Regions from separate parts of the Homo sapiens genome. Here all the other regions are linked to region 1. The links come from fine-mapping of genetic effects on gene expression. A gene starts in region 1. Each other region holds a variant in brackets. All regions are shown on one strand. Distances are from middle to middle.

Region 1 (10,818 bases):
GTGATGCACTCCTGTAGTCCCAGCTACTCAGGAGGCTGAGGCATGAGAATCGCTTGAACCCGGGAGGAGGTTGCAGTAAGCTGAGATCGCACCACTGCACTCCAGCCTGGGCAACAGAGTGAGACTCCATCTGAAAAAAACAAAAACAAAAACAGAGACCACAATGATACATTTTACATTATGACCTAGTACACGTGTATATAAATATCTGCATACATAAATAAAATAAAGTTGATGGAACTACTTACCATCCCTATATAAATGCCCGCTGATTGTATCTATTCTACATCATTTTTTTTTTTTTTTTCTGAGATTAGGGTCTCACTCTGTCACCCAGGCTAGAGTGCAGTGGTGCGATCTCAGTTCACTGTAACCTCTGCCTCCCAGTTTCAGCGATTCTCTCATCTCAGCCTCCGGAGTAGCTGCCACCACACCCAGCTAATTTTTGTATTTTTTGGTAGAGACGGGTTTCACCATGTTGGCCAGGCTGGTCTCAAATTCCTGACGTCAAGTGATTGATCCACCTGCCTTGGCCTCCCGAAGTGCTGGGATTTCCAGCGTGAGACACCACGCCCAGCCCTATTCTACATCACTTTTTAAAAAATACTAGTCATAATCCACTAAGTTGATTTCATGACCAGTGAAGAGATAAGAGCCTTCCTAACAGTTTTACCCATGTGAGGTTTTTCTTTTTCTTTTGAGACGGACCCTTGCTCTGTCGCCCAGGCTGGAGTGGAGCGACACTATCTTGGCTCACTGCGACCTCCGCCTCCCGAGTTCAAGCAATTTTCCTGCCTCAGTCTCCCAAGTATCTGGGATTACAGGCACGTACCACCACGCCCCGGCTAATTTTTGTATTTTTAGTAGAGACAGGGTTTCACCATTCAGGCTGGTCTCGAAATCCTGACCTCTGGCGATCCACCTGCCTCACCACACCCGGCTGGCTTTTTGTTTGTTTGTTTTTTTGAGATGGAGTCTCGTTCTGTCGCCCAGGCTGGAGTGCCACCACAACCTCCACTTCCCAGGTTCAAATGATTCTCCTGCCTCAGCCTACTGAATAGCTGGGATCACAGGTGTGTGCCACCATGACCAGCTAATTTTTTTTTAAGATGAAGTCTCGCTCTGTGGTCCAGGCTGGAATGCAGTGGCGCTATCTCAGCTCAGTGCAACCTCTGCCTCTCAGGTTCAAGCAATTCTCCTGCCTCAGCCTCCTGAGTAGCCCTGATTACAGGCGCTTGCCACCACACCTGGCTAATTTTTGTATTTTTAGTAGAGACGGGGTTTCACCATGTTGGTCAGGGTGGTCTCAAACTCCTGACCTCATGATCTGTCCGCCTCAGCCTCCCAAAGTGCTGAGATTACAGGCATGAACCACCGTGCCCGGCGTTACCCATGTGTTTTTGCTTGGAGTTTTTAGTACTCTAAAAGCAGACGTAATTCATAATGTGGGCCCATGTTTTTTAAAAAGTTTTTAATGAAATTCTGGAAGCGACAACAAAGCCATAAGGAACAATGTTACCCAGCTTCCTACTGCACAACCTGCATGCCTGTTTCTTCACCCTGTCCTGAATGTGCTGTTTAGCATTCTTATGATTTTAAAAATTTATGTGGCATATGCAGATATTTCTAAAAATATATAGTTCAGTTCTGAAATGTTTTTAAACTTTATATAAATGATATCATCTCCTGCAACTTGAAAGGGCTTTTCTGGGTTTCTTTACTTCATTTTGCTTCGTGAATTTTATCCACATTAACATGGGTAGGTGTCACGGGTTCATTTTCTCTGCAGTATGAGTACACCAGTCTCCTATTGATGGACAGGTGGTTTCCAACCTTCTGTTCCTAAGTTCTGCTCTGAATCTTCACGATGTATGTGTATACATGTGTGACTTTCTCCAGGGGCATGTACCTAGGCGTAGGGCTGAGTATCTTCAATAACTTTTTACAAATATATCTAACAAAATTTCAAATACATGTGCTTTTTGACCCAGTAATTCCATTTCCTGGATTCTATAAAAAAAACACGCAGGTGGCCACAAAGATGTTCTGTTCTACGAAGTTCAGGGCAGCACTGTCTATAATAGCAAAACACCTACCAAAGGGGAGAACTACCTTCAATAACACCCCACAAATATTTATTGAGCACTGACCGCGTGCCAGAAACACTGTTACAGGTGTCAGGGAAACAGCTGTCTTACAGCTTAGGGGAGAAGGACGGGGAAGCAAAAGAAACAAGGCTCCCGCCCTCACAGAGCAGAAATAATGAGCACTTTCCTCCAGGGAGAAAAAGAGGCAAACCTCATCATCCAGAGCACGATTTCCCAACCAACATTTCAGAACATAATCCTTTGACATGGGTGGCTGGAGGATGGCCAGCAGCATCTCTGCCTCTACCCACTAGATGCCAGTAGTGATCCCGAGTCCTGACAATGAAGACATTGCCAAGTGCCCCCTGTGGGGCAAAACTGCCCTCGGTTGAGAATCACTTATTTGGGACGACCAACTGGCCCTCTTTGGACTCAACCTTCTGGTGTGACCCTCAAACAGTGGAGCATCAACAAAAATGTCACACAGGACAGAATAAAGATCCTCACTGAGATCAAGCTGGAGTGTGTCTCTCGTCTGTCTGTTATACTAGTACAAATAGCAGAGGTCAGCCAACACTTTGTATGAAGAATTGTAGAGAGGTGGCACCATAGCCCTGGGAGTCCCCGACTCCTGGGCTACTTGTGAAACAAATGACAACGAGATTGACTGCGCATATCCTTCAAGAACCCCATCTCTTTCATTTTACTGCCAGTCACACCTGTAATCGCAGTGCTTTGGGATGCTGAGGCGGGAGGACTGCTTGAGGCCAGGAGTTCAGGGCCAGCCTGGGTAACATAGCGGGACCCTGTCTCTACAAAACATTTTTAAATTAGCCAGGCATGATGGTGCATACATGTAGCCCCAGCTACTCGGGAGGCTGAGGTGTGAGGATCATTTGAGCCTGGGAGTTCGAGGCTGTAGTGAGCCGAGATCAGTCCAGCCTGGGTGAGAAAGAAAGACCCTGTCTCAACAAAACCCCAAAACAAAAACATAATACATATACATACATACACTAAACCCTACTGTTTGAGGATAACCACAGCGGCAAAGCCAGACTAATAATGTATTTATCCTCTATCCTCACTGGCTTACCCTGTGGGTATTATGCTTGATACTTTGTTTAGTTAATTCAGCTAATGTTAACTCAGTATTTCTGGGTGGAATACATACACAGGAGCCAAGTCCTAACCTCACCCTTGAGATGGGGGCGGTTTCCCCTGCCATACCTCAGTCCCCGCAGACCTGCTGAATCGGATCTCCTGGGGTGAGGCCCCAAGATCTGCCCTTTCAAAAGCTCCACTGATGATTCTGAAGGCAGACAAGCTTCCCTAAGGAATGCAGACAGGTGAGGCAGACAGGAAAAATGTCATCATGGTACAACAGGTGCAATCAAGAGGCAGGAACAGCCCAGAGGTGGTGGGCTGCCCAGAAGCTGTGATCTCTGAGGGGCATTTTGAAGGCTGGGAATTTTTGCCAGGTGAAAAAGGGCACACATCCATGTGTAAATGCACGGATGCATGAAAAGGGGCACAGCATGTTGGATGGAACTGGAAATTTCTGTGGGGTGGGGAAGAGGGAGGATGGGGAGAGACAGGGGCCTCGATCTGACCCAAGTGTGTCCATTGGTCTGTGCTGCTGATCCACACCACCCCCACAGCGAACACTGGGCCTTCTGCTGTGGTTGTTGAAATGCACCCCCAACCGCCCCAGAACCTGCCTCTCCCCTTCTGCATTTTCAACTCAGACGCACCCTTTCAAATCTAGTTCAGATACCACTTCTTCAACAAAGCTGCTTCTGATGTCCTCAGCCAGGAACAATCTCCCTTTCTCTAAATACATTCAGTTCTTTTTCACTATCTTTAGCTTTCTGGCCTTGACTAGAAGTTATCTGGGTCTTGTTTCATCTCCTGTTAGTTCATAAACTACTGAGGGGCAAAGTACGCATCCGGTTTGCCTTTGTGGCCTCCATGACACAGCTGGGGCTGAAAGAGTATTAAAAGAATGTGCTGCAAAGGTATATTATTGCAGGTAGAATTTATATCGTCTCCATTAGATTAGCTACAAAATACAATCCCATCATGCTGCCTAAGCTCGAATAAGTTTGCTTTTGCTTTACGAAAAATATGTCATTTTTGGATTCCAAACCCAAAAAGCTGTGGCCATATTCAGCAGGGTATGGTGAGGAGTACAGGGGCTAGGGAGAGCAGCCACACCTGAGGGACCTTGGGCAAAGCCACGCAACCTCCCTGAGCTTGTTTCCCACCTGCAAAATGCCGGTACAAAAACACTGCTGAAAACTGAGCGGCCCCGCACAGCGCCGGGCGCAGAGCAGAGGCTTTGCAGATAGCTGCCCCCAGATGGCACCTTGCAGCCTTCTGACCCAGACCAAAGTCCAAAAAGGTTGACTTACCCAAGGTCACACCTCTAGATAGTGATAGTGTGGCATCTGGACAGAATCACACTGGTCTTCCTAAACCTTAGCAAGACAACTCTCCAGTCTTGATGATTAACTGGATACAACCCTAAGCAGCTAACATCAGTCAAAAAAACTCAACGAGTGAAGGTTCCTGATTCTATTCCCTAACCCGTTTCTTCTAGTGGAAAAAGCTGTCTTCTTTTGGCAATTTTGGGGTGAGACTAATTTTGTTTACAACCCCAGCGCTGAAATGGGGTGGAATTTTACAGATGCCGTGTAGGCCCTCTGGCTTCAGGCGCTATGCTTCACCCTCCGGAGTTGGGCGACCGTCTTCTAGTTATCACCCCCCTAGCAACCAAAAGGTGTGTGGCCCAGGAAATAAACCCACTGGGAAAGGATGTTTTGTAGTATACAGAGTGCTTTCACATATTCCAAACATTGTGTATCAGGCACTGTGCTGGGTACTGCGGTTACAAATCAGTCACTATCACCCAGGATGTTAAGTCCTGCAGCGAACTAGTGTATTGTGCTTGACTTTGTTCCAAGCCTGGGCCTTGGCACCTTACAACTGAAAAGCTAAGTTGGTTCCTTTTAATTCATTTATGTTTCAGCTCCAGTGTCTGGCCTACGGGACCACCCACTCTAAAGCAGCCCCCGTCAATCCCAGAACCTGCCTTATGTTCGTTCTTCAGCAAGTGTGTTCAAGGCTTCACCTCCTGCACATAGTGGGGAGTGCTGGGAACACGGTCTCTAAGTGCTCCACAAAGGCTGAACCAGCGGTGAAAGGCCTGTAAGAAGAGCTAGGGAGCACGCAAAAGCCCCCAGCAGGGCTGTGAAGGCAGAGAAGGCACGAGGGCGTTCCAGGCACAGGGCCCAGCGTGAGCAACCGCTCCTAGAGTGAGGCTCCTGGGGTGAAAATGCCAGGGTGGTGACAGGTGGGGGCCGAACGCCGTCCCTAAGAAGCTCAGCCTGGGGACGCCCTGAGTCTTAACCCGGGCGGATACTGGCCTCCCCGGACAAGCAGCTACCCCGCCGCGGGGCGTCGGCCCCCTTCGGGCCTCAGTTTCCCCACGTCCCTCCCGACGCCTCACCTGGGGCGGGAGCAGGCGCGGCAGGCGCGGGGGCTCGGTGCCCCGGCCCCGCTGCAGGGCGGCCTGTTGGGCCGCGTCCCGCAGCCGCCGCGCCGCGTCCCGCAGCACGAAGGGGGGCGGCGGCGGCGGCGGCTGCGCCTTCGTCACCTGCTCCAGGACCTGCCGCAGCTGCTCGGGGCCCAGCGGGGCCACACGTGCGACGCTGCCGCTCTGGCCCGGAGGAGCCGGGCCGCCGCCGCCGCCGCCATCCTCGCTGCCGCCCCCAGCCTCCGGCTCCGCATCCGCCATGGCGGCCGAGGCGGGGACTCGAACCCGGGTCGCTGAGCGACGGCGTCTCCAATGTACGTCACCTAGGAGAGGGGCGGGCTACGAGTGCCTCGCAGGCCAAGACACCTAGGAAGGCGACCGTGTCTGGCCGGGAAAGTCGTGGAGTGCCCCGCCCCAGCCGACAACCGCCGCGGCTCTTAGGGCTGATCAGCAGAGCGGACCCCCCTTATTTTCCTTATTGCCTGTCACGGATGTGTTTAAGACTCACCTTCTCTGGGAGCTGTCCCGGATCTCCCAGGGGGAGGTCTTCGGGGTTTCAGAGCCCCTGGCCCAAAAGTTACCACAATATCCAAGTGTTCTGACGTCATCATGCATCCGAATCAGCGGAGGATGCTGTCTGGAGATGCAGAGTACTGTGCCCACCCCTAAACATTTGGATTTATACATCTGGGAGGGGACCACAGTTTGAATTGTTAACGAGAGTGTTTCCCAAATTTTTGCCTTGTCACCGTAGCTTCTCTCTACCCACCCACCCAGATTGGGTGCACCTTGAAGGGAGAGATGATATATTACACAATCGGTGCCCAGCACAGGCCCTGCCCAGAACACAACGCACGCTCAGGGCATGAATGATGGATGGATGAATATGAATAAACGAATGAGTGAACGAATGAATGAACCCACCCTCTCTCTATCCATCCAGCTCCACTGCCCCATCTTCCTCAGCCTGATCGCCTCTCCTTCTTACGGTTGAGGCTCTGTGCGCCCTCCGAATCTTGTAGCTGCAGGTGTGTACACATGTCCCAGCTCCTTTCCCCAGGGAGAGCAGGAGGTCCACTGGTCCACAAACCCTTCTTAAGCACCTGGTGGGTGAACCGCTGTTTCCGCCCTGGGGGGTATACAGTCTAGGTGCCGACCCCCAAGGAGGAAACTTCCCAAGGGGGAAGGAGGAAACTGGCATTTGCAGCACAGTATGATGAGCGCCGAAGCCGGTAAAGTAAGGCTGGCGGCCTGGGTGGCGTCAGAGAAGGTTCTGGAAGATCACCACCATCCTCATCAATACTCACATTGCATTCACGATGATCCCTTCCGTGTTATTTTTTAATGGTGAATTTTATATTATGGGTATCTTACCACAATTTTTTTTTTTTTTTGAGACAAGATCTCACTCTGTCACCCAGGCTGGAGTGCAGTGGCACAATCTCAGCTCACCGCAACCTCCATCGCCTGGGTTCATGCGGTTCTCCTGCCTCAGCCTCTTGAGTAGCTGGGATTACAGGCGTCCGCCACCATGCCTGGCTAATTTTTGTATTTTTAGTAGAGACGGGGTTTCATCATGTTGGTAAGGCTGGTCTTGAAACCCTGACCTTAGGTGATCCGCCCGCCTCGGCCTTCCCAAGTGCTGAGATTACAGGTGTGAGCCACCACACCCGACCAGATTTCAGGAATTCACATGCCTTCTGCTCAAAATAATTTTCATGCCACCGTGGCATATTCTAAACCCCTTCAAGCTCAGGAAACTTGAGGGCAGCAACCTCCACCGATTCCTCCATGCTGTGTCCCTGCATCTAACAACGTGCCTGGCACGACTATTAAAAGATGTGACATCCATCCTGTGTACAGATGTCTATTTTAAGTGTCAGCTGCCCCAGGCTCTCCTAACTTTGCTTATAATAGCAGCAGCGCCATCGGCTGGCATTTATTGAGAACTTTTACTACACCCTGGGCACATACCAAGGTCTGTAGATGTTGAGCTGCTTCTTATTTAGGTCAGAACTAGTAGCTGTTTCCACTGTAGAATTTTCAAAAACAGGTGGAGCCCTTGCCGGATCCTGACATAAAATGGCATCAACCTTATACAACCGGCTTTTGTTCAGCTGAGCACACCTGACCACCCTAGAAACGAACCGAGTGAGAAATTCATCCACTTGCTCTGGCTTCAAAATGTAGAACCAAGAGGAAGAAATGTGAAGCCTAAGATGTCTCCGAAAAGAAAAGAGGGGGGACAAAAAGCAAGAGAAGGTTTCCAGAGGCTTCCACAACCTGAATGCCTCACTAAAAACATGGCAGTCATCTAGTGGCTGGTCACTGTCTCCAGCGGGTTGGGGTTTGTGTCTCACCGTTTTGCTCCCAGCCTAGGAATGGTGCTGGGCATGCAGTAGCTCTCCATATGCATCTGTGGAATGCATTCATTCCAGACCTGGATTTTCACCTCCAAGACTTCCCCGCAAGTGGGCCCAGGGAACACTAGGCGGTGATATCTGCGAGCACCTGTCTTCACTGGGCGGTTCCTCCAGGCCAGACGCAGCCTCAGGAAACGTGGGGGGTGGGGGCGTGGGATGTGCATCGGTTGGATGTCCAGAGTGTCCTTTAAAACGACAAAAGTAAAAGGCCTAACCAATGGCATTCTAAAACAGACCCTTCAGGTGGCGGCGCGGGGACTCGGGGTGAGGAGCCACCGCCCCAGCGCGCTCTGAGTTCCTCCCGCTCTCCCCAGCAGGTAGCCTTGGATAACCTCTGGGCCAGTCCAAAAGATTCCGCAGTTCTCTCCTGCCTGCACGCCGGTTACAGTATCAGAAAGGAACATTGCGGGGACCAAAAAAAAAAAAAAAAAGTTAGCCTGGCCCGTACGGGGATCGAACCCGCGACCTTGGCGTTATTAGCACCACGCTCTAACCAACTGAGCTAACCGGCCGCCTGACGTTGGGCCCCCACGGGAGCGCCTAAGAGGGCTCCAAGCCCGCGCCCGCCCCCTAGCGACTCCCTGCCGGGCCGGCGCCGCTGGCTGCATTCCGCTTCGCCACAGCCGCGACTTCCGACCTCTTCACAGTCATCCCCATTGGCCCGATGCAGAAACTAAGACTTAGGGGACTTCAAGGAGAAGGGAGGCGACTCCCTACAGCGAAGGCGGCTTTTTTTCACAGGAAAAATGCAAATTGCACATGGGAGGCTTAGCTCCGCAGTGAGAAGGTTTTCAAACATGCCAACTCAGTGTTGTTTTTATCTCCGAGAATCCTGCAGCGTGGAAACTTCGTGTAACAGAGGCCTTTAGCATGGTTAAATCAAGCTTGGAAAATACAGAAAACCGGACAAAAGAACCACCGAATTCCCTATCGCCCAATAAACAAGGGCCGCTGGGGTCTTGGCTTCCTTCCTGCTGGTTTTTTTTCCTACAGTACACGTGTATTTATACACACACACACACACACACACACACACGGAATCCAAAGCCTTGTATGAAGCAGTCTTTTTTTTGAGACGGAATCTCCCTCTGTCGCCCAGGCTGGAGTGCAGTGGCGAGATTTCGGCTCAATGAAGCAGTCTATTTTTTATCTTTCTTTTTGCATTTAATATTCTAGAATAAGCATATCCCTAAACAATTGCAAATGTCACTTTAAATGATTTCTCAGTGTTTCATTGAGTGGACAAACCACCATGGCTTTCTCCTTTTTTTTTTTTTTTTTTTTTTAGTGTCTGTAAAAATGTTTTCATTTTGCTCTCTCTCTTGTTAACTGAGCACATAAATAAATCACATGGTACAGGCAGAAGGGTTGAAACAGCCACTGAGTAGGCAACGATGGTACCCACCCCTAAAAGCGTAGGATCTGTATGCAAAAAAAGAGAGAGAGAAAGAAAAGGCTGGGAAGACAAACCACCACCGTGTCCACCACCCAGCCTGCATGTCCCAGAGGCCTACTGTTCTCCTACAGGGCCTGACTATGGTGTGCTGCGTGGCCCTCCCACTCCAGGAGCACCAGCTTTTTTTTTTTTGAGACAGAGTCTCGCTCTGTCACCCAGGCTGGAGTCCAGTGGTGCAATCTCAGCTCACTGCAACCTCTGCTTCCTGGGTTCAAGCGATTCTCCTGCCTCAGCCTCCCAAGTAGCTGGGACTACAGGCACGCGCCTTGTCCGGTTACTTTGTGTGTGTGTGTGTGTGTGTGTGTGTGTGTGTGTGTGTGTGTGTGTATTTTTAGTAGAGATGGGGTTTCACCATGTTGGCCAGGCTGGTCTCGAGCTCCTGACCTCAAGTGATCCGCCTGCCTCGGCCTCCCAGAGTGCTAGGATTACAGGCGTGAGCCACCGCATCGGGCCAGCTTTTTAACATTATACATTCTGCTCTGATTACTCCACTAAACTGCTTGGACTGAGGTATCGTCAGGGTTCTATGTCACAAGCAGCAGAAACCGAGTCTAGCTGATTCGAAAAGATTTTATGTAAAGGATGTTAGGTAGGTCACCCTCCACGAGTAAGGCTAGAGGACCAGGTTTAGAAAAACGGACACTCAGTGAAGACATACTCATTCAGCCCGGCAGTGCCCTGGCCCCCAATCAGCTGTGAGTCAAAGAAACCTAATCCCCATCCTGATGGAGCTCTCCGCATAACAAGGAAGGCGGATATTATAGGGAACGGAGAAGATTAGGTGGTGTGCTGGGAGGCTGGGCAAGCGTCCTGAAGTCTGGAGCACTTTACTGTGTCCAAAGGACAAGGATAGATGAGCAGGCCAAAGGGGTAAAGCCCTCTCACAGAGCACTGGTGGGGGTGCAGGCATCCTGTCCATTTTGCTTACAGCTGAATGAATGCCCAGAACCTAGCACACTCTCTGGCATAGCAATAGGTAAGAGTCACATGGGTTTAAAACAGTCAGATCAAGTCATTTCTCTGCTCACACTCTCTCCTTTTGTTGCAGCCCTAACAGGCCTGCCAAATTTAGCAAATATAGATCAAGATGCCGGGTTAAAATTGAATTGCAAAAGGACAATGAAACTTTTTTTAGTGTAAGTATGTCCCACGCCATATTTGGGACATACTTATACTAAAAGAATACATGTGCTGTATCTGACAACCCTACGCCCAGGGTAACATCCCGTTGAAAGACACCACCGGACCTGCGCCTTTCCCCTCTGCCCTCCTGCACCCCTGCCCGGCTCCCTCCGCGGCAGCCCCTCCGCCTCCTCC
Region 2 (10,818 bases), 380 kb after region 1:
CACCATGTTGGCCAGGCTGGTCTCGAACTCCTGACTGCCTCGGCCTCCTAAAAGTGCTGGGATTACAGGCGCGAGCCACTGCGCCCGGCCTAGTTTTTGTATTTTTTGTAGAGACGGGGTTTCGCCATGTTGCCCAGGGTGGTCTTGAATTCCTGAGCTCAAGTGATCCTCCCGCCTAGGCCTTCCAAAGTGCTGGGAGTACGTGAGCCACCGCTCCTGGCCCTGCACACAGCTTTTGATTGTACGCCTTCCTTCTGTCATCATGCTGTTCTCTCTGACCGAACAAATCTCTCTTCATCTTTCTATCAAACATCGATTGAGTTTGAGCGAGGGCGTGGAGGGGTTGAGCACAGTGCCAGGCACTGGAAGCACGTTGGTGAACAAGACAAGCCTGGGCAATGTTCCCACAGAGCTCACGATCTAGCGGGGGAGACAGGTTGGAGATAGGGGAGAGGCTGCGGGCGTCTCAGATCTGGCACCAGAGAGATCCTAGACTCCAGGATAAGCAGTCAATAGCTAGGTCAGGGCTGGGCGCGGTGGCTCACGCCTGTAATCCCAGCACTTTGGGCGGCCGAGGCAGGTGGGTCACGAGGTCTGGAGTTCAAAACCAGCCTGGCCAACATGGTGAAACCCCATTTCTACTAAAAACACAAAAATTAGTCGGGCGTGGTGTCGGGTGCCTGTAATCCCAGCTACTTGGGAGGCTGAGGGAGAAGAATCGCTTGAACCCGAGAGGCGGAGGTTGCAGTGAACCGAGATGGAGCCACTGTACTCCAGCGTGGGCGACAGAGCAAGACGCAACTCTGTCTCGGGGGAAAAAAAAAAAAAAAAAAAAAAGCCAAGTCAGGGCAAGATGTGAAATAGCACGTTGGAAGGCTCCTGGGTAAGATTTGACCTGTCACAAGAGGAGAGAAGGTAGCCGGGGCAGCGATTTGATTTCCGGAATGGTGGTTGCTAGGCAGTGTTCGGAATGGATCAGATGGGTGTTTTTGTAAGATCCCTCTGGCTGTTAATGTTAGGGGTGCAAGGGCAGGAGGGAGTTGGGCAGCCAGAGGCGGAAAGAGAACAGCCAGAACAGAGGCTGGATGTAGAATTCTGAACATGTGTGGGAACCTTTCTGGGCCTCAATTTGTCCATCTGTAAATTGGGAGGTAGACTCAATCTTTACGGTCCTCCCACCTCTGATTAAAATTTAGCAACAGTCAGCCGGGCGCGGTGGCTCACTCCTGTAATCCCAGCACTTTGGGAGGCCGAGGTGGGCGGATTGCCTGAGCTCAGGTGTTGGAGACCAGCCTGGGCAACACGGTGAAACCCCGTCTCTACTAAAATACAAAAAAATTAGCCGGGCGTGGTGGCGGGCACCTGTAGTCCCAGCTACTCGGGAGGCTGAGGCAGGAGAATGGCTTGAACCCAGGAGGTGGAGGCTGCAGTGAGCCGAGATCGCGCCACTGCACTCCAGCCTAAGCGACAGAGCAAGACTCCGTCTCAAAAAAAAAAAAAAAAGAAAACTTAGCAACACTTCAGGTAGGTGAGAATTTACAAGTGGTTAAAACAGGGGAGAAAGATAATGGGAAAGAAAGAAGGCAGGAGGGATGGAGGAAACAAAGGGGATACCTGCGAAAGAAGGGACTCCAGTGAAAAATCACAAAGGCTTGGTCAATGTCATGTGATTAGCCCAGCTGTCAATTATAGAAGTTAGGATTCTGTCTTCCCACAGAGACTGGAGGAGTCTAACCTTCCTCATGATTACATTTCAAAAGGACGGCTTTCAGGTCCTAAAGAAAGACACTCCTGAGCTGAAGGAGATAGATATACATCTCAAAGGGATAGAGGCGGGATTCGTATTTGCAAGCCATTTTTAGTAAATGCTCAAAGGGAGGGCCCAGGAGTCTTTCATTAGGTGTTGGCTAAAACAAATAGTAAATTCTTCTGGCATCATTGAGCTTCTCTGGCAGGCATTGTAACGGGGGTGCTGGGATCATCCTAGGAACTTGTGCTTCTAGAAGCATGCTACTCTTTGGTCATCTCTTAGTGCAGAGGTTAGAATGGAGTTGTCATGTGCTGAGAGGTCTGCAGTTCTCAGGGTGCACTTTTTTTTTTTTTCCTTTTTTGAGATGGAGTCTCCCTCTGTTGCCTAGGCTGGAGTGCCATGGCACAGTCTTGGCTCACTGCACCCTCCACCTCCCAGGTTCAGGGAGTTCTCCTGCCTCAGCCTCCCGAGTAGCTGGGACTACAGGTTCATGACACCACACCCGGCTAATTTTTGTATTTTTTTTTTTTTTTGGTAGAGATGGGGTTTCACCATGTTGGCCAAGCTGATCTTGAACTCCTGACCTCAAGTGATCCGCCTGCCTCGGCCTCCCAAAGTGCCGTGATTACAGGTGTGAGCCACCATGCCTGGCCAGGATGCACTTTTATTCATTTAGTAATTTCTTCACGGCTTCTATGTCTTTTTCATTATGGAGAATGATGCTGTCATGAGCATTCTTGGGCTTGTAGCTGTCATTCTTTTGTGCAAGTGCTGGTGGCTAAATTCCTAGAAGCAGAATTGCAGAGTCAAAAGGTATGACATTTTAGACATTTTAAATGTTTAGCATTTTAAACATTTTAAACATTACCTAATTACCCTTCCAAAGAGTTGTACAAATCTGCGTAGCCATCAACAATAAACTAAAATGCTCTTTCCTCCCATCTTCCCCACTACCATTGGAATCTCTTGTCCCACCAGGGCTGCTAATTTCTTTTTTTATTTTGTCTTTTTTTTTTCCTTTTTGTGGAGAACGGGGTCTTGCTATATTGCCCAGGCAGGTCTCGAACTCCTAGGCTCAAGCTATTCTCCCGCCTCTGCCTCCCTAAGAGCTGGGGTTATAGGTGTGAGCCACCGCGCTCAGCCTCTTTTTTTTTTTGGCTCTGGTTGCCCAGGCTGGAGTGCAATGGCGTGATCTCGGCTCACTGCAACCTCCGCTTCCCAGGTTCAAGTGATTCTCCTGCCTCAGCCTCCCAAGTAGCTGGGATTACAGGCATGTGCCACCATGCCTGGCTAATTTTTTGTATTTTTAGTAGAGACAGGGTTTCTCCATGTTGGTCAGGGTGGTCTCGAACTCCTGACCTCCGGTGATCTGCCCTCCTCGGCCTCCCAAAGTGCTGGGATTACAGGCATGAACCACGGTGCCCAGCCAGGGCTGCTAATTTCAGTGGACCCCTTTCCCTCTCAGAGCCTTTTTCTCAGTGTGAAATGGGGATAGGACAATGATATTAATGACAGCAGGTGTCATCTGCTGAGCTTCCTCTGCCTGCTTTACATGATCCTCCTGAAGACATACTTTTTTTGGTTGGTAGGCTATTAATTATTGCCTCAAGTTCAGAGCCTGTTATTGGTCTATTCAGGGATTCAACTTCTTCCTGGTTTAGTCTTGGGAATTATTATCTCCTTTCCACGGATGAGACCACTGAGAGGCAAATGGAGCTGAAATTGCAACTCCACTCTGACATCAAGAAACTCTTCTTGGCTGGGTGCAGTGGCTCACACCTGTAATCCCAGCACTTTGGGAGGCCAAAGAGGGCGGATCGATTGAGCTGAGGAGTTTGAGACCAGCCTGGGCAACATGGCAAAGACCATGTCTTTACAACAAATATAAAAATTAGCTGTGCCTGGTGGTGTGTGCCTGTAGTCCCTCCACACAAGAGGCTGAGGTGGGAGGATCGCTTGGACCAGGGAGGCGGAGGTTGCATGGAGCCAGGATCGTGCCACTGCACTCCAGCCTGGGTGACAGAGTGAGACCCGTCTCATAAAAAGAAAAGAAACTTGGCTGGGCGCGTTGGCTCACGCCTGTAATCCCAGCACTTTGGAAGGCCAAGGCAGGCAAATCATGAGGTCAGGAGATTGAGACCATCCTGGCTGACACTGTGAAACCCCGTCTCTACTAAAAACACAAAAAATTAGCCGGGCGTGGTGGTGGGCACCTGTAGTCCCAGCTACTCGGGAGGCTGAGGCAGAAGAATGCAGTGAGCAGAGATCACGCCACTGCACTCCAGCCTGGGTGACAGAGTGAGACTCCATCTCAAAAAAAAAAAAAAAAATTAAAAAGAAAGAAAAGAAACTCCTCCCTAGAGCCCGCCTGAGCTAGAAAGTTGTACAGATGTGGGTCCCCCCAGAGTTTGGGACTTTTCGTTGTCACAGCTCTGTTGAATATTATGGTAATTACCTGTTTCATGCCTCGTCACAGTTTAGAGGGATGCTTTCCCGGGGAGGTGCTGTAGGAGGAAACAAAGTTCCCCCAGCATCCCTTTAGAAGGAGAAATGCCAGTTACCTCTTGTCAATTCTGGGTCATCACCCATAGTCTCCCTTGAAAGGACATGTACAGGGCAAATGGTGCCAGTCACTGAGGAAAACCTCAGTCCTGGGGAAGGGGGCACACACAGGTGGGCAGCAGTTCTGGGTCTTCCATTCCCCCAGCCTCCCTACCCCAGTGTGGCCACAGAGAAGCATGCCACTGGTTTCACTTTAAATTCTTGATCAAATCTTCACTTGAACATTCATACTTTGCGGAGAAACTCGAGGGTATCAGAGGGCAACTCCTTAATCCAACCCACCCCAAATCTATATATTTACCTGCATTTGCTCCTTAAATCTTTTTTTTTTTTTTTTTGCCTTCTGTTAAAATGGATTCTCTGCTCCTGTTTAAGACCAACCCTCCCTTGAGCTCTGGCTTCGAGTTGCCCGTCCCCTTCATAAACACTGCATGGGCTTGTCCCCATCACACACAGATATGTTCCAGTGTTTGCTTTCTTTTAAGATATCCTCTTCTAAAATTCTCTTTTTTGTTGTGTCTCTGCCAGGCTTTGGTATCAGGATGATGCTGGCCTCATAAAATGAGTTAGGGAGGATTCCCTCTTTTTCTATTGATTGGAATAGTTTCTGAAGGAATGGTACCAGCTCGTCTTTGTACCTCTGGTAGAATTTGGCTGTGAATCCGTCTGGTCCTGGACTTTTTTTGATTGGTAGGCTATTAATTATTGCCTCAATTTCAGAGCCTGTTATTGGTCTATTCAGGGATTCAACTTCTTCCTGGTTTAGTCTTGGGAGGGTGTATGTGTCCAGGAATTTATCCATTTCTTCTAGATTTTCTAGTTTATTTGCGTAGAGGTGTTTATAGTATTCTCTGATGGTAGTTTGTATTTCTGTGGGATCGGTGGTGATATCCCCTTTATCATTTTTTATTGCATCTATTTGATTCTTCTCTCTTTTCTTCTTTATTAGTCTTGCACACATATGTTTATTGCGGCACTATTCACAATAGCAAAGACTGGGAACCAACCCAAATATCCATCAATGATAGACTGGATTAAGAAAATGTGGCACATATACACCATGGAATACTATGCAGCCATAACAAAGGATGAGTTCATGTCCTTTGTGGGGACATGGATGAAGCTGGAAA[C/A]CATCATTCTGAGCAAACTGTCACAAGGACAGAAAACCAAACACCACATATTCTCACTTATAGGTGGGAATTGGACAATGAGAACAACTGGACACAGGGTGGGGAACATCACACACCGGGGCCTGTCGTGGGATGGGGGGAGGGGAGAGGGATAGCATTAGGAGATATACCTAATGTAAATGACGAGTTAATGGGTGCAGCACACCAACATGGCACATGTATACACGTGTAACAAACCTGCATGTTGTGCACATGTACCCTAGAACTTAAAGTATAATAAATAAAAATAAATAAAAATAAAAATAAAATCTCCTCTTCTGACCAGTCCTCTACAGCAGGGCTCTGTTTCTGTTCCCTAATCACCAAAATGTCTCTTATGTGATTATCCTTTTTTTTTGAGACAGGGTCTTGCTCTGTCACCCAGGCTGGAGTGCAGTGGCACCTCCCAGGTTCAAGTGATCCTTCTGCCTCAGCCTCCGGAGTAGCTGGGGCTACAGGCGTGCACCACCACGCCCAGCAAATTTTTTTTTTTTTTTGTATTTTTAGTAGAGACGGGGTTTCACCATGTTGGCCAGGATGGTCTCGATCTCTTGACCTCGTGATCCGCCTGCCTTGACCTCCCAAAGTGTTGGGATTACAGGGGTGAGCCACCTCGCCAGGCCCACCTTCTCTCTTATAGACATATGCATATATTGTCTTTATCTGGTCTGATGCCCCAGCAGCCCTGATTCCCCGAGTATACCTCCACAAACAGGAACCCTCTCCTACTTGACCTTCTTATGGACCTTGTGTCAGGAAATCAACACTGTTAAAAACAATGTGAATCTGGCTGGGCGCGGTGGCTCACGCCTGTAATCCCAGCACTTTGGGAGGCCGAGGTGGACAGGTTGCCTGAGGCCAGGAGTTTGAGACCAGCCTGGCCAACATGGTGAAACCCTGTCTCTACTAAAAATACAAAAATTAGCCAGGCATGGTGGCATGCACCTGTAATCCCAGCTACTCAGGAGGCTGAGGTGGGAGGATCACTTGAACCCAGGAGGCGGAGGTTACAGTGAGCCGAGATTGTGCCACTGCACTCCAGCTTGGTGACAGAGCGAGACTCTGCCTTAAGACAAAACAAAACAAAAGTGAATCAACATCAGACTCCATTCCATTTCACCAGATACCCGCAAAGTCTTCTTTCCCTTCTGTCCTATTCTCTATCCAGAATGTGCATGGCACTTCCTTGCCATGACTCGTCAGCCTCCTGTCAGGAACAGCCCCTCAGCCTCACATTGTCTCTAGTGTCCTTGACAGTCTGTCTTAGTCCATTTGTGCTGCTATAACAAAATACCACAGATAGGGTCATTTATAAAGAAGAGAACTTTGGCCAGGTGTGGTGGCTCACGCCTGTAATCCCAGCACTTTGGGAGGCTGAGATGGGCAGATCACGAGGTCAAGAGATCGAGACCATCCTGGCCAACCTGGTGAAACTTCGTCTCTACTAAAAATACAAAAATTGGCCGGGCATGGTGGCGCATGCCTGTAATCCCAGCTACTTGGGAGGCTGAGGCAGGAGAATCACTTGAACCTGGGAGGCGGAGGTTGTGGTGAGCAGAGAGATGCGCCACTGCACTCCAGCCTGGGCGACAGAGTGGGACTCTGTCTCCAGAAAAAAAAAAAAAAAAAAGAACAGACCTTTATTGCTCCCAGTTCTGGAGGCTGGAAGTGCAAGATCAGGGCACCAGCAGATTTGTTGTCTGGTGAGGGCCTGGCCCCACCTTCCAAGATGGTGTCTTGACTGCTGTGCACTCCTGAAGGGATGAACTCTGTGTGCTCACGTGGCAAAGGGGTGAAAAGAGTCAGACTGTCTCCATCAAGCCCTTTTATAAGGTCATCAAATCCCACTCATGAGAGCAGAGCCCTTATGACTCAGTCACCTCCCAAAGGCTACACTTCCCAGCACTGTTGCACTGGGGATTACGTTTCTTTTTTTATTTTACTTTTGTAAAAAAATATTTTTTCTATCTGCCTGCTGAGGCAGGCAGATCACCTGAGGTCAGGATTTCAAGATCAGCCTGGCCAACATGGTGAAACCCTGTCTCTACTAAAAATACAAAAAATTGGCCGGGCGCGGTGGCTCACACCTGTAATCCCAGCACTTTGGGAGGCTGAGGCGGGCAGATCACGAGGTCAGGAGATCGAGACCATCCTGGCTAACACAGTGAAACCCCATCTCTACTAAAAATACAAAAAAAATTAGCCGGGCGTGGTGGCAGGTGCCTGCAGCCCCAGCTACTCGGGAGGCTGAGGCAAGAGAATGGTGTGAACCCGGGAGGCGGAGGTTGCAGTGAGCCCAGATTGCGCCACTGCACTCCAGCCTGGGCGACAGGGCGAGACTCCATCTTAAAAAAAAAAAAAAAGGTTGGATGGATAGATTTGATTTACCTGTGAAGCCTTCTGTATGTATATAATTGTCATAAGTAGTTTTTCCTTGTTTTTCTTTGCTACTCTGTGAGCCAAACCCTGGCAAATCTTCCAGCCCCCCTCATCTTCGGGTCTTTGCACGGGTCCTCTTGCTTGGGACATTCTCCACTTTCATTGGGGGAAGCCCAGTGGGAAGCCTCCCTGCAGTGCCCTAACCTCTCCCCACTGCGGTGCTGGCTTCCTGCCATGGAACCTGACTTGCTGGACTGTCTCAGGACATGGAAGCAGGGGCATCTGCATTGGGTTCACCGCCGTTATTGGCACGGTCCACAGACATTGGGATGAGCGAGTGTTCTCCCACGGCTCTGCCCTCTTCAGGCACAGTCACTGCGTATGTGCATCCTGCTCTTCACACCTCATTCACTTCACAAGCTGAGCAAGCTGTCCCGTCTGCACTGGGGATGGAGCTGGGCACTGGAGACACCTCCAAGAAAAAGCAGATGAGCTCCTTGCCTTGTAGTGGAGGCACTTTACTAAGAAATAAATGAAATGACAAATTGTACCAGGGCTCTGATGAAAATGGGGTGCCCTGACAGAGAGTAAGGGGATGGGGGGTTCCCAATTTCAGGACAGTGGTCAGAGAAGGCCCCTTTCGAGAGAAACCATTGCATTTTAGACCTGCAGGTTGAAAACAGTCAGCCCCGCCACTTCGGGGGCTAGAAGTAGGAAGTGACAGTGACAGCGTGTGCAAAGGCACTGGGGCGGGAAGGAGGTTGGTGGGTGAGAAGCAGAAACCAGTGATGGACCAGTGGGAGCACAGCTGGCCATGGCTGCAGAGGTCAGCATGGGGAGGGCTCAGGCTTTATTTAAGTGCCATGTGAAGCCACTCGAGGGTTTTAAGCAAGAGGGCGACGTGATCTCTATTTTAACACGTTCTGGAGAGAAAGCTGTCACTGCAGACTAGGGAAGGGGCAGGGCTGGGGTGGGAGAGCAAGGCTGGGCTAAGGTGCAATCTCTAGGATCTAAGAATCCTAGGAAGGGAGGAATCATGGCCAACCTCCGGGTTTCTGGCTTGATGAGTCTGCTGGGTGGTGGTGTCAGTTCCTGGGTGAAGAAGATCTCAGGGACTGGGCTGGGAGGGGGTGGGCAAGTGTGGCCCATGCTGCCAGCACTGACCCCTCTATGCTGTGGGCGTCCACTCTGTCTACCCAGAGGGTGATGCTGTCCAGGGCATACTGAGGCCCCAGTGCCCGCATGTGCCACCCCACAGATACCTGTTGATCGAAATTCTTTTCACTGTCTTCATTTGGGTCAAATCCTCACCCAAGGGGGTTGGATTTTATTTTTTATTTTTTTGAGACAAGTTCTCACTCTGTTGCCTAGGCTGGAGTGCAGTGGCGCAATCTTGGCTCACTGCAGCCTTGAATTCCCAGGCTCAGGTGATCCTCCCACCTCAGCCTCCTGAGTAGCTGGGACTACAGGTGTGTGCCACCATATTTGGCTAATTTTTATTTTTTTTGTAGATACAGGGTTTCACCATGTTGCCCAGGCTGGTCTTGAATTCCTGGGCTCAAGGGGATCTGCCCATCTTGGCCTCCCAAAGTGCTGGGATTACAGGCATGGGCCACCGTGTCCAGCCAGATTTGACTTTTTACACCCTAGTTTTTCAAGGTCAACTTGTGGAAAACATGGGTACTTCTTTTTTAAAAAAAAATATATATATATATATTTTTTTATTTAAAGAGACAGGGCCTTGCCATGTTGGCCAGGTTGGTCTTGAACTCCTGGCCTCAAGCAATCGACCCACCTCGGCCTCCTAAAGTGTTAGGATTACAAGCGTGAGCCACCAAGCTTGGCCACTTCTTATTTATTTATTCTAGGGCACTTTGTGAAAAATAGAAAACGTGTGGCTATAAATGACTGAGCATTTCTGGTACATCGTGTATGGCAGACTGAAGATGATTCCAAAGATCTTTTCTCAAGTATCTTGAGAAATTTAGCTTTTTTTTTTTTTTTTTTTTTTTTTTTTTTCTTGAGACAGAGTCTTGCTCTGTTGCCCATGCTGGAGTGCAGTGGCACGATCTTGGCTTACTGCAACCTCCGCCTCCCGGGTTCAAGTGATTCTCCTGCCTCAGCCTCCCAAGTAGCTGGGATTACAGGTGCACACCACCATGTCTGGTTAATTTTTGTTTGTTTGTTTGTTTTTTGAGATGGAGTCTTGCCCTGTTGCCCAGGCTGGAGTGCAGTGGCACAATCTCAGCTCACTGAAACCCCCGCCTCCCGGGTTCAAGTGATTCTCCCACCTCAGCCTCCCGAGTAGCTGGGACTACAGGTGCCCGCCACCACGCCCGTCTAATTTTTGTATTTTTAGTAGAGATGGGGTTTCACCATGTTGGCCAGGATGGTCTCGATCTCTTGACTTTGTGATCCGCCCGCCTTAACCTCCCAGAGTGCTGGGATTACAGGTGTGAGCCACAGCGCCCGACCTAATTTTTGTATTTTTTTTAGTAGAGACAGGGTTTCACCATATTGGCCAGGCTGGTCTCAAACTCCTGAACTTGTGATCCTCCTGCCTCGGCCTCCCAAAATGCTGGGATTAGAGGCATGAGGCACTGCACCTGACCAAAATTTAGCTTTTTAATATGGGAAATGTTTTCTATGTAAGAAATATCTGAATTTTTACTTGGTAAAGTAAAGCATTTCTACAGGAGGTCCATTGCCTGTCTCAAATAAATCTTTCAATTGTGCATTTTCCTAGAGACTTTTTTTTTTTTTTTGAGACAGAATCTCGTTCTGTCGCCCAGGCTGGAGTGCAGTGGCATGATCTCGGCTCACTGCAACCTCTGCCTCCCGGATTCAAGCGATTCTTCTGCCTCAGCCTCCCAAGTAGCTGGGATTACAGGCACGTGCCACCATGCCCGCCTAATTTTTTTGTACTTTTAGTAGAGACGAGGGTTCACCATATTGGCC
Region 3 (10,818 bases), 250 kb after region 1:
ATGGGCCTGGTAGCCTGTGGTTTGCCATGAGAAGCCTCTTCAAAACGGTGGGGCCTGTACCCACCCCTTGAAAAATGTCCTTAATACCGGTAATACTGAGGCAGCTGGCTAAGTCCGCTTTTCCTTCTCCTTTCACGAAATTGTCTCATCTTTTTTTTTTTTTTTTTTTTTTTTTTGAGACGGAGTCTCGCTCTGTCGCCCAGGCTGGAGTGCAGTGGCGCAATCTCAGCTCACTGCAAGCTCCACCTCCTGGGTTCACACCATTCTCCTGCCTCAGCCTCCTGAGTAGCTGGGACTACGGGTTCCCGCCACCACACCCGGCTAATTTTTTGTATTTTTAGTAGAGACAGGGTTTCACCGTGTTAGCCAGGATGGTCTTGATCTCCTGACCTCATGATCTGCCTGCCTCGGCCTCCCAAAGTGCTGGGATTACAGGTGTAAGCCATCATGCCTGGCCGAAATTGTCTCATCTTCATACCAGGTGGGCCCATATTCCAGCTTTCATTTTATTTATTATATTTTATTTATTTATTTATTTATTTATTTATTTATTTATTTATTTATTTATTTGAGACAGAGTCTCACTCTGTCGCCCAGGCTGGAGTGCAGTGGTGCGATCTCGGCTCACTGCAAGTTCCGTCTCCTGGGTTCATGCCATTCTCCTGCCTCAACCTCCTGAGTAGCTGGGACTACAAGCGCCCACCACCACACCCGGCTAATTTTTTGTATTTTTAGTAGAGACGGGGTTTCACCGTGTTAGCCAGGATGGTCTCGATCTCCTGACCTTGTGATCCACCCGCCTTGGCCTCCCAAAGTGCTGGGATTACAGGCATGAGCCACCGCGCCCGGCTTTGTTTTGTTTTTGAGACAGAGTCTCGTTCTGTTGCCTAGGCTGGAGTGCAGTGGCACAATCTTGGCTCACTGCAACCTCTGACTCTCAGATGCAAGCAGTCGTCGCGCCTCAGCCTCCCAAGAAGCTGGGATTACAAGCATGTGCCACCACACCCAGCTAATTTTTGTATTTTTAGTAGAGACAGGGTTTCACCATATTGGCCAGGCTGGTCTTGAACTCTTGACTTCAAGGGATCTGCCTACCTCCACCTCCCAAAGTGCTGGGATTACAGGTGTGAGCCACCATACCTGCCTTATTTTATTTTATATTTTATTATTTGAGACAGGGTCTGGCTCTGTTGCCTGGGCTGGAGTGCAGTGGTACAAGCTCAGCTCACCGCAGCCTTGACCTTCCAGGCTCAAGCGATCCTCCCAAATCAGCCTCCCAAGCAGCTGAGACTACAGGCACGTGCCACCATGCCCGGCTAATTACTAATTTTTGTATTTTTTGTAGAGATGGGGTGGGGGGTGGGGGTGGGGTCTCATCGTATTACCCAGGCTGGTCTTGAACACCTGGACTCAAGCAATCCTCCTGCCTCAGCCTCCCAAAGTTCTGGGATTACAGGTATGAGGCATTGCACCCGGCCCCACTTTATTTTATAGATAAGAAAAACAAGCTCTGGAAGTGGAGAACACGCAGGGCTCTCTGGGCTAAGGGAGGCCAGGGCTGCGGTGCAGGCATCAGACTTCTACTCCTGCACCCCGACACCTCCCAAATGCCCAAGAGCTGGGCAGGGCCTGGGGAGTGGGATGGATGTCCTAGGCTCAGCTCTGCTTCCAGGGAAGGGGTTCTGGAGGAGCAGATAGGCCCAGTCTTGAGTTTAAGACTACAGATGTGTGTGTGTTTTGCTTATGTTTGTATCCCAAATACTCATAACAGTGTCTGGCACATGACAGGCACACAAATCTATGCTAACAAATAACAAATTAACCTAAGCACTTCATAGTTTACACTTTCACTTACAGTTTCTAATTTTTTTTTTTTTTTTTTTTTTTTTTTTTTTTTGAGACTGAGTCTCGTTCTGTCACCCAGGCTGGAGTGCAGTGGCACCATCTTGGCTCACCACAACCTCCACCTTCCAGGTTCAAGCAACTCTTGTGCCTCAGCCTCCTGAGTAGCTAGGACCACAGGCGTACTTCACCACGCCTGGCTAATTTTCTCTTTTTTATAAACTATTTATTTGGGAGATTTCCAAAACATACAAAATAGAAGCAGATAGATAATAACAAATGTTGGCAAGGATGTGGAAAATTGGAACCCTCATAGGTACACTGCTGGTAGGAATGTAAAATGATACTGTTTTGGAAAACAGTCTGGCTGTTCCTCAAAATGTTAAACATAGCATTGCCACATGATCCAGGGATTCCACTCCTTGGGATTTACTCAAGATGAACGGATAAACAAAATGTGGTCTATGCATACAATGGAATATTATTCAGGCTTAAAAAGGAAGAAAATTCTGACACATGCTACGACATGGATGAACCTTAAAGACATTGTACTAAGTGAAATAAGCCAGTCACAGAAGGACACACACTGTATGATTCCACTTACCTCAGGTACCTAGAGTAGGCAAATTCAGAGAGACAGGAAGTAGAATGCTGGTTGCCCAAGCTTGGGGAGGAGGGAAGGGAGAGTTAGCATTTAATGGGAACAGTTTTCATTTGGGAAGATGAAAAAGTTCTGAAGATGGATGGTGATGATGTTTGTACAATAATGTGGATATCTCCACCACTGAACTGCAGACTTAAAAATGGTTAAAATGGGCAGGGTGCGGTGGCTCACACCTGTAATCCCAGCACTTTGGGAGGCCGAGGCGGGCGGATCACGAGGTCAGGAGATCGAGACCATCCTGGCTAACAAGGTGAAACCCCGTCTCTACTAAAAGTACAAAAAAATTAGCTGAGTGTGGTGGCAGGCGCCTGTAGTCCCAGCTACGCAGGAGGCTGAGGCAGGAGAGTGGTGTGAACCTGGGAGGCGGAGCTTGCAATGAGCTGAGATCACGCCACTGCACTCCAGCCTGGGCAACAGAGCCAGACACTGTCTCAAAAAAAAAAAAAGGTTAAAATGGTAAACTTCATGTTATGTATATTTTGTTTTGTTTATTTATTTATTTATTTATTTTTGGAGACAGAGTCTCACTCTGTCGCCCTGGCTAGAGTGCAGTGGCGTGACCTTGGCTCACTACAACCTCTGCCTCTGGGATTCAAGTTATTCTCCTGCCTCAAACTCCCAAGTAGCTGGGATTACAAGCACTGCCACCACACCTGGCTAATTTTTTGTGTTTTTAGTAGAGATGGGGTTTTTCCATGTTGCCCAGGCTGGTCTTGAACTCCTGACCAGCATGGCAGGTGATCCACCCACCTCGGCCTCCCAAAGTGCTGGGATTACAGGCATGAGCCACTGCACCTGGTCAGGAATTGTTTTATGAACCGACAGGTGCCCACCAGTCAGCTGCAACAATTACATTAATGAGGTCTCATTTGAGTCTAGAATCTTACGAAGAAGGTATCGTTTATCAATTCCTTTTGATAGATGAGGAAACTGAAGATCAGAGTGGTCACACAGCAAGTAAGAGGTAGACAGACTATATCTTCCCCTACCCGCTTCCAAAATAGATTGTCCCTGGACCCTGGCTTTTCCCCACACCAGCTGCCCCATTTAAACACCCCATTCAAAATGTGATTGGCTGAGCCTAGCCTGTGTCCTAGCTGCAAGAGAGGCTGGGAAAACCGGTGTCTGGTCTTTTCATGGCCTTTTCCTCCCATCTGGCCTCGTGAGGTTGGGGAGTCCCCAGAATGTAGGAGGGGGATTCAGCGCTGGGCAACTCAAAACTGACAGACCGCTGCAGTGGCTCATGCCTGTAATCCCAGCACTTTGGGAGGCCGAGGTGGGTGGATCACCTGAGGTCAGGAGTTCAAGACCAGCCTGACCAACATGGTGAAACCCCATCTCTACTAAAATACAAAAGTTAGCTGGGCATGGTGGCAGGTGCCTGTAATCCCAGCTACTCAGGAGGCTGAGGCAGGAGCATCACTTGAACCTGGGAGGTGGAGGTTGCAGTGAGCCGAGATCACACCACTGCACTCCAGCCTGGGCATAGAGCAAGACTCTGTCTCAAAAAAAAGAAAAAAGAAAAAGAAAAAAAAAACTGACGTCTCTTTCTAAGACCTCACACACCAGACAACAGAGCTCCTCTGCCTGGAATGATTTCTCTTTCTCTTTTTTTTTTTTTTTTTTTTTTTTTGAGACAGAGTTTTGCTCTTGTTGCGTAGGCTGGAGTGCAATGGCGTGATCTCAGCTCACTGCAACCTCTGCCTCCCAGGTTCAAGTGATTCTCCTGGCTCAGCCTCCCAAGTAGCTGGGATTACAGGCGCCAGCCACCCTGCTCGGCTAATTTTTGTATTTTTAGTAGACAGGGTTTCACCATGTTGGCCAGGGTGGTCTCAAACTCCTGACCTCGTGATCCACCCACTTCAGCCTCCTAAAGTGCTGGGATTACAGGTGTGAGCCACCGCGCCCAGCTTTTTTGTATTTTTTTTATTGTGGTAAAATATATGTAACTTTTTTTTTTTTTGATACAGAGTCTTGCTTTGTCGCCCAGGCTGGAGTGCAGTGGTGCGATCCTCGGCTCACTGTAACCTCCGCCTCCCAGGTTCAAGTGATTCTCCTTCTTCAGCCTCCCAAGTAGCTGGGATTATGGGCACCTGCCACCACGCCCGGCTAATTTTTGTACTTTTAGTGGAGACAGGGTTTTGCTATATTGGCCAGGCTGGTCTCGAACTTCTGACCTCGTGTCCTGCCCACCTTGGCCTCCCAAAGTGCTGGGGTTATGGGCGTGAGCCACCACACCCGGCCTGTAACATAAAACTGACCATTGTAAACCATTTTTAAGTGTACAGTCCAGTGCATTAACTACCTTCACAACATTATGCAACTATCATTACTATTTCCAAAACTTTTTCATTCCCCCAACAACAACTCTGTACCCGGTAAGCCACCAATTGCCTGAGATGGTCTCCATGTCCCCCCACACCAGGCTAAATCCTTCCACTCTTCCACTATCTGGCCCCAGATAATCCTTCCATTATCTGGTCTCAGAAAATATTTTCCTGACATAACATAAGCCCCGCATACACTCTCCTTGCGTCTTCTACCTTTCTTTGTAGCATTATGCAACTATAAGGAAATGACCATTCGTTTCAGGTCAGTCTTCCTGTCTCTCTGCTGCCTGTCAGCCCAGGAGGGAAGGCGTGAGTGTTCACTGCTAAATTGGTGCATGTGGCAAACACCTGATACGTATTTGTGGCCTGAGTGAAGAAGTGGTATGTACAAATGATGTTTTCCCCCTTCCTGTGGGGATGACAATTTGTTTAAATAATTCTGTATAATTTAGGAAGCTTTTGTTCCCTTTGCTAAGCCTTCAAGATCTGCTCAAGACTTTGAAAGTGTGATTATAGATTCTTCCTCCATAGGAGGGAATGTCACATCACCTCCCTGAGAAGAACATTCCAGGAAGTGGGGCTTTTAATGAGTCACGGTGTATTAATAGCACCACCAAAATCTGAACAAAGATGCCATTATGTTAGTGCAGAGCAAGTGAGCTGAACACGCTATCTGCCAAGTGTACGTTTTTGCTTGGAACATCAATCATCTTCTTATGAAAGCGTTTTAGGCCTCAACACTTGATCAATGAAAGTTCCAGAACTCGAAATGCAGTCCAAAAAGAAGCACTCTTGTTTTTTTAATGCCAGGTTAAAATTCAAAAAACAGGCTGGGCGCGGTGGCTCACGCCTGTAATCCCAGCACTCTGGGAGACCAAGGCGGGTGGATCACAAGGTCAGGAGATCGAGACCATCCTGGCTAACACGGTGAAACCCCATCTCTACTAAAAATACAAAAAATTGGCCAGGCATGGTGGTGGGCGCCTGTAGTTCCAGCTACTTGGGAGGCTGAGGCAGGAGAATGGTGTGAACCCGGGAGGTGGAGGTTGCAGTGATCCAAGATCGCACCACTGCACTCCAGCCTGGGTGACAGAGTGAGACTCTATCTCAAAAAAAAAAAAAATTCAAAAAACAAGAAACAGGCCGCGCGCAGTGGTTCACACCTGTAATCTCAGCATTTTGGGAGGCTGAGGTGGGTGGATCATTTGAGGTTAGGAGTTTAAGACCAGCCCCGAGCAATGTGGTAAAACCCCATCTCTACTAAAAAATAAAAATAACAGAAAACACATTAGAATGAAAATCAATAAAACATTTAACATCTGAATGCATTTGTGGTGGATATAGAAAAGTATGCTATTTTGCCCTCCACCCCCTGCTTATTTTGTGCGGTTTTTTTTGAGACAGGGCCTCATTATGTTGCCCAGGCTGGACTCAAACTCTGGGGCTCAAGCAGTCCTCCTGCCTCAGTCTCCTGAGTAGCTGGCATTCCAGGTGCGCACCACCACGGCTGGCAACAATTTCCCTTTTTTTTTTTTTTTTTTTAAGGTGGAGTCTCTCTGTCA[C/T]TAGGCTGGAGTGCAGTGGTGTGATCTCACCTTACTACAATCTTCGCCTCCCAAGTTCAAGAGATTCTCCTGCCTCAGCCTCCCAAGTAGCTGGGACTACAGGTGTGCGCCACCACGCCCAGCTAGTTTTTGTATTTTTAGTAGAAGTTTTAGAGGTTTCACCATGTTGGCCAGGATGGTCTCCGTCTCTTGACCTCATGATCCGCCTGCCTTGGCCTCCCAAAGTGCTGGGATTACAGGCGTGAGCTACCGCTCCTGGCCAAACACTTTCCCTTTTAATAAAACCAGTTGGTACCATTTCTAAGCAGTTCCTGAATCCTGTGGTTTCTGCTGTCTCAGTCTCCTTCCTTAGCCTGGAAGGGCAACACACGTAAGAGAAGATGCCCAACCGCACTGCAAGTCATGAAAGGGAAAGTGAGTGTAAGAAGATGCATTTTACACCCATCAGGAATGGCAGAAATTAAAGGAGGACAGTACCAAATGTTGGCTATGGTCTGAAAATGGGGTCTCTCATGTGACCTGATGGGGGTACAGATCAATACAGTTAATCTGGAGGGCAATTTGGCACATCTGATGGAGTGGGAGAACTCACCCTGAGTACTTCCTGGTACGTGCTAGAGAAAGTCTTTCCACTTGCACCGGGAGAAAGGTACAAGAATGTTCTCCACAACCCTGTAGCAGGGGAATTTGAAAATATCTACATGTCTCAAAACAGGAGACTATCTTGGTAATTTGAGTTAATAGGAAATAAGGGGATAAAGGGACGTGCTAAATGACACTCTGAGGAAGCAGGCGGACAAATCCAGATGTGTGGGATATTTGGCTTGGTGTCTTCCACAAATAAGTGCCATTTAAACAACTCTTGTTGCCGGGCATGGTGGCTCATGCCTGTAATCCTAGCATTTTGGGAGGCCAAGGCAGGCGAATCACTTGAGGTTGGGAGTCGAGACCAACCTGGCCGACCTGGTGAAACCCTGTCTCTACTAAAAATACAAAATTAGCTGGGTGTGGTGGCGGGTGCCTGTAATCCCAGCTACTTGGGAGGCTGAGGCAGGAAAATCGCTTGAACCTGGGAGATGGAGGTTGCAGTGAGCAGAGATCGTGCCACTGCACTCCAGCCTGGGCAGCAGAGCAACACTCTGTCTCAAAAAAAAAAAGTACACAAAAGCAGACAGAATAGTATGAAACCTTAGTGACCATCACCATCCCCAACAACCAGCCAACTGGCCATGGCCATTCCCACCCATCCACACTCAATGCACCCTTCTTTCTTTCTCCAAGTCATTCTGAGGCAATTCTGAGATTTCATTGTACCATTTCACCCATAAGTATTTTCCCTACTACATCTCTGCACTCAGACATATTCAAGGCACTTGGTACTATAATTAAATGTACGATTAAGTGAGTGAACAAGGACAAGTCAAGATGTTCATTTTTGTCATTTCTAGTTAACACTGTACTGGAGGTTCTAACCAGGGGCAATTAGTCATGAAAAAGAAAAGACATCCTGATATCCTGATTGGACAGGAAAATGTAAAAAGTATCTGCATTTGTAAATGACATGATCTTGTATATAAAAACTCCTAAGGATTACAAACACACAAATCTATAGAACTAATGAGTTCAGCAAGATTTTAGGATACAAGATTGGCCGAGCATGATGGCTCATACCTGTAATCCCAGCACTTTGGGAGGCCAAGGTGGGAGGATCACTTGAGCCTAGGAGTTCAAGAGCAACCTGGGTAACATAGTGAGACCCCTGTCTCTACTAAAAAAAAAAAAAAATACAAGATTAATATATAAATATCAATTGTATTTTTATACATTAACAATGAGTGATCTGAAAATAAAGAAACATTTTTATTTGCAATAGCACCAAAAAGAATAAAAGATTTAAAAATAAAATTAGGTCAGGCTTGGTTGCTCATGCCTGTAATTCCAGCACTTTGGGAGGCCAAGGTGGGAGGATTGCTTGAACTTAGGAGGTCAAGGCTGCAGTGAGCTAGGATTACTCACTGTCCAGCCTGGGTGACACAGTGGGTCTCAAAGAAAAAGTAATAATAATAATAATAAATAAATAAAATTAACAAAAGGAATGCAAGACTTTTTATACTGTGTATTGAAAACTACAAAACATTGTTGAAATTAAAGACAAACTAAAATGGAAAGACATACCATGTTCATGGATCGGAAGGCTTAATGTTGTGGAGATAAGCAATACCACCCAAACTGATCCACAGATGCAACCCAATCCCTATTAACAATTTCCCAGCACTTTGGGAGGCCAAGGTGGGCGGATCACGAGGTCAGGAGATTGAGACCATCCTGGCTAACACACTGAAACCCCGTCTCTACTAAAAATACAAAAAATTAGCCGGGTGTGGTGGCGGGCGCCTGTAGTCCCAGCTACTCGGGAGGCTGAGGCAGGAGAATGGCGTGAACCCGGGAGGCAGAGCTTGCAGTGAGCCGAGATCACGCCACTGCACTCCAGCCTGGGTGACAGAGCAAGACTCCATCTCAAAAAAAAAAAAAAAAAAAAAAAAAAAAAAAGCTGGCATTTTTGTGCAGAAACTGACAAGCTGGTTATAAAGTTTATATGAAAATGAAGCAGGCATGGTGGCTCACGCCTGTAATCACAGCACTTTGGGAGGTCAAGGCAGGTGGATCATGAGGTCAGGAGTTTGAGACCAGCCTGGCCAAGATGGTGAAACCCTGTCTCTACTAAAAAATACGAAAATTAGATGGGTGCAGTGGCGGGCACCTGTAATCCCAGCTACTCAGGAGGCTGAGGCAGGGGAATTGCTTAAACCTGGGAGGTGCAGGTTGCAGTGAGCCGAGATCGCACCACTGCACTCTAGCCTGGGTGACAGAGTAAAACTCTGTCTCAAAAAAAAAAAAAAAAAAGGAAAAGAAAATGTTAAGGAACCCAGAAAAGCCAATCTTGAAAAAGGACAAAGTAGTAAGACTCACACTTCCTGACTTCAAACATTACTAAGAAAAAAAAAGTGAGGCCAGGCCTGGTGGCTCACACCTGTAATCCTAGCACTTTGAGAGGCTGAGGCAGGCAGATCCCGAGGTCAGGAGTTCGAGACCAGCCTGGCCAACATAGTGAAACCTTGTCTCTACTAAAAATAAAAAAAAATAGCTGGGGGTGGTGGCGGGCTCCTGTAATCCCAGCTACTCAGGGGGCTGAGGCAGGAGAATCACTTGAACCTGGGAGGCGGAGCTTGCAGTGAGCCAAGATTGCACCACTGCACTCCAGCCCGGGCGACAGTGCAAGACTCTGTCTCAAAAAACAACAACAACAAAAAAAAAATATAAGAAAAAAGAAAAAAAACTGAGCAGCTAACATGACTTGTGGCAGATTCAGTTCACTGATTCCTTTTATTATTCGTTCAAAAATTTTTTTGAAGGTTACTGTGCCAGACACTGCACTAGGTGCTTAAGGAGCTGAGGGTTCAGAATTTCTAGGCTCAGAGGGTGACAGTATAGTAACATCATAGAATTCAACCGACACAGCAGAGCACAGTAGCTCATGCCTGTAATCCTAGCACTTTGGGAGGCCAAGGCAGGTGGCTCATTTGAGCTCAGGAGTTTGAGACCACCCTGGGCAAATGGTGAAACCCCGTCTCTACTAAAATACAGAAAATTAGCCAGGTGTGGTGGCGCACGCATGTAGTAGTCTCAGCTACTTGGGAGGCTGAGGGAGGAGAGAATTGCTTGAACCTGGGAGGTGGAGGTTGCAGTGAGCCGAGATAGCGCCATTGCACTCCAGCCTGGGCGACAGAGTGAGACTCTGTCTCAAAAAAAAAAAAAGAAAGAAAGAAAGAAATCAACAGATACTTTCTACACAGGCTGGTCTGGCCTACTGTGGTAGTGCAGAGGGGTTGGCTGGATCCTAACAAAGACTTGAGAGGTCAAGGAACGCTCCCTGGAGGAGGTGTCAAACCCAAAGGTTAAGTCAGGGCCAGGGATGAGGGTGAAGGGAGCATTTTTGGCAAAAGAAAGAGCTGTGGGTGGCTGGAAGGAAAGGTGGCTTGGTGCCTCCCAGGAATGAGAGGAGGTGGGAGTCGCTGCAGCCTTGGGGTGAAAGGTTCTCAGATAGGGACTGAAAAGGGGGTTGCTGGGTGGCCGGGGCAGCGTGGGCCCTTGTGGCCATGTTAAAGGATTTGGATGTCATCCTAGGGCATAGGGGAATTCCCCAAAGTTTTGTGGCATAATCACGACCTCACAGAGGCCTCTCTGGCAGTGAGTGGAGCCCAGAGTGGGCCCAGGGCGGACAGGAGGAATCTGAGGAGCCTTACTGGGGCCTGGGCTATGGGCAGGGCTGGCAGGGAACAGGCAGGGGGATGGAGGAGCAGCGGGGCCTGCGGGGGAGGTCCTGGGCGGGCTGGCGGGGCCCTTCCGTGCTGGGTTGCCG

Evidence for each region. PIP is the estimated chance that this variant, and not a neighbour inherited with it, causes the effect.
Region 2: its variant is fine-mapped to the expression of ZNF839 in whole blood (TOPMed, PIP above 0.99).
Region 3: its variant is fine-mapped to the expression of ZNF839 in whole blood (TOPMed, PIP above 0.99).

Annotation. Positions count from the first base shown.
Region 1 is chr14:102,314,831-102,325,648 of GRCh38, reverse strand. It overlaps ZNF839 (zinc finger protein 839), which reads right to left and starts at 5,903. Exons shown (of 8, transcript NM_018335.6): 1 at 5,596-5,903. The coding sequence starts at 5,883. It overlaps TRI-AAT5-4 (tRNA-Ile (anticodon AAT) 5-4), which reads right to left and starts at 8,557; the gene lies at 8,484-8,557. RefSeq lists enhancers at 5,284-5,393, 8,768-8,867 and silencers at 5,494-5,683, 5,744-5,843.
Region 2 is chr14:101,936,345-101,947,162 of GRCh38, reverse strand. No RefSeq gene overlaps it. Among named protein-coding and RNA genes, the nearest start is that of DYNC1H1, 23 kb to the left of the region's middle. RefSeq lists enhancers at 886-1,545, 1,546-2,207. The variant C/A (reference allele first, on the strand shown) is at 5,443.
Region 3 is chr14:102,066,121-102,076,938 of GRCh38, reverse strand. No RefSeq gene overlaps it. Among named protein-coding and RNA genes, the nearest start is that of HSP90AA1, 16 kb to the left of the region's middle. The variant C/T (reference allele first, on the strand shown) is at 6,399.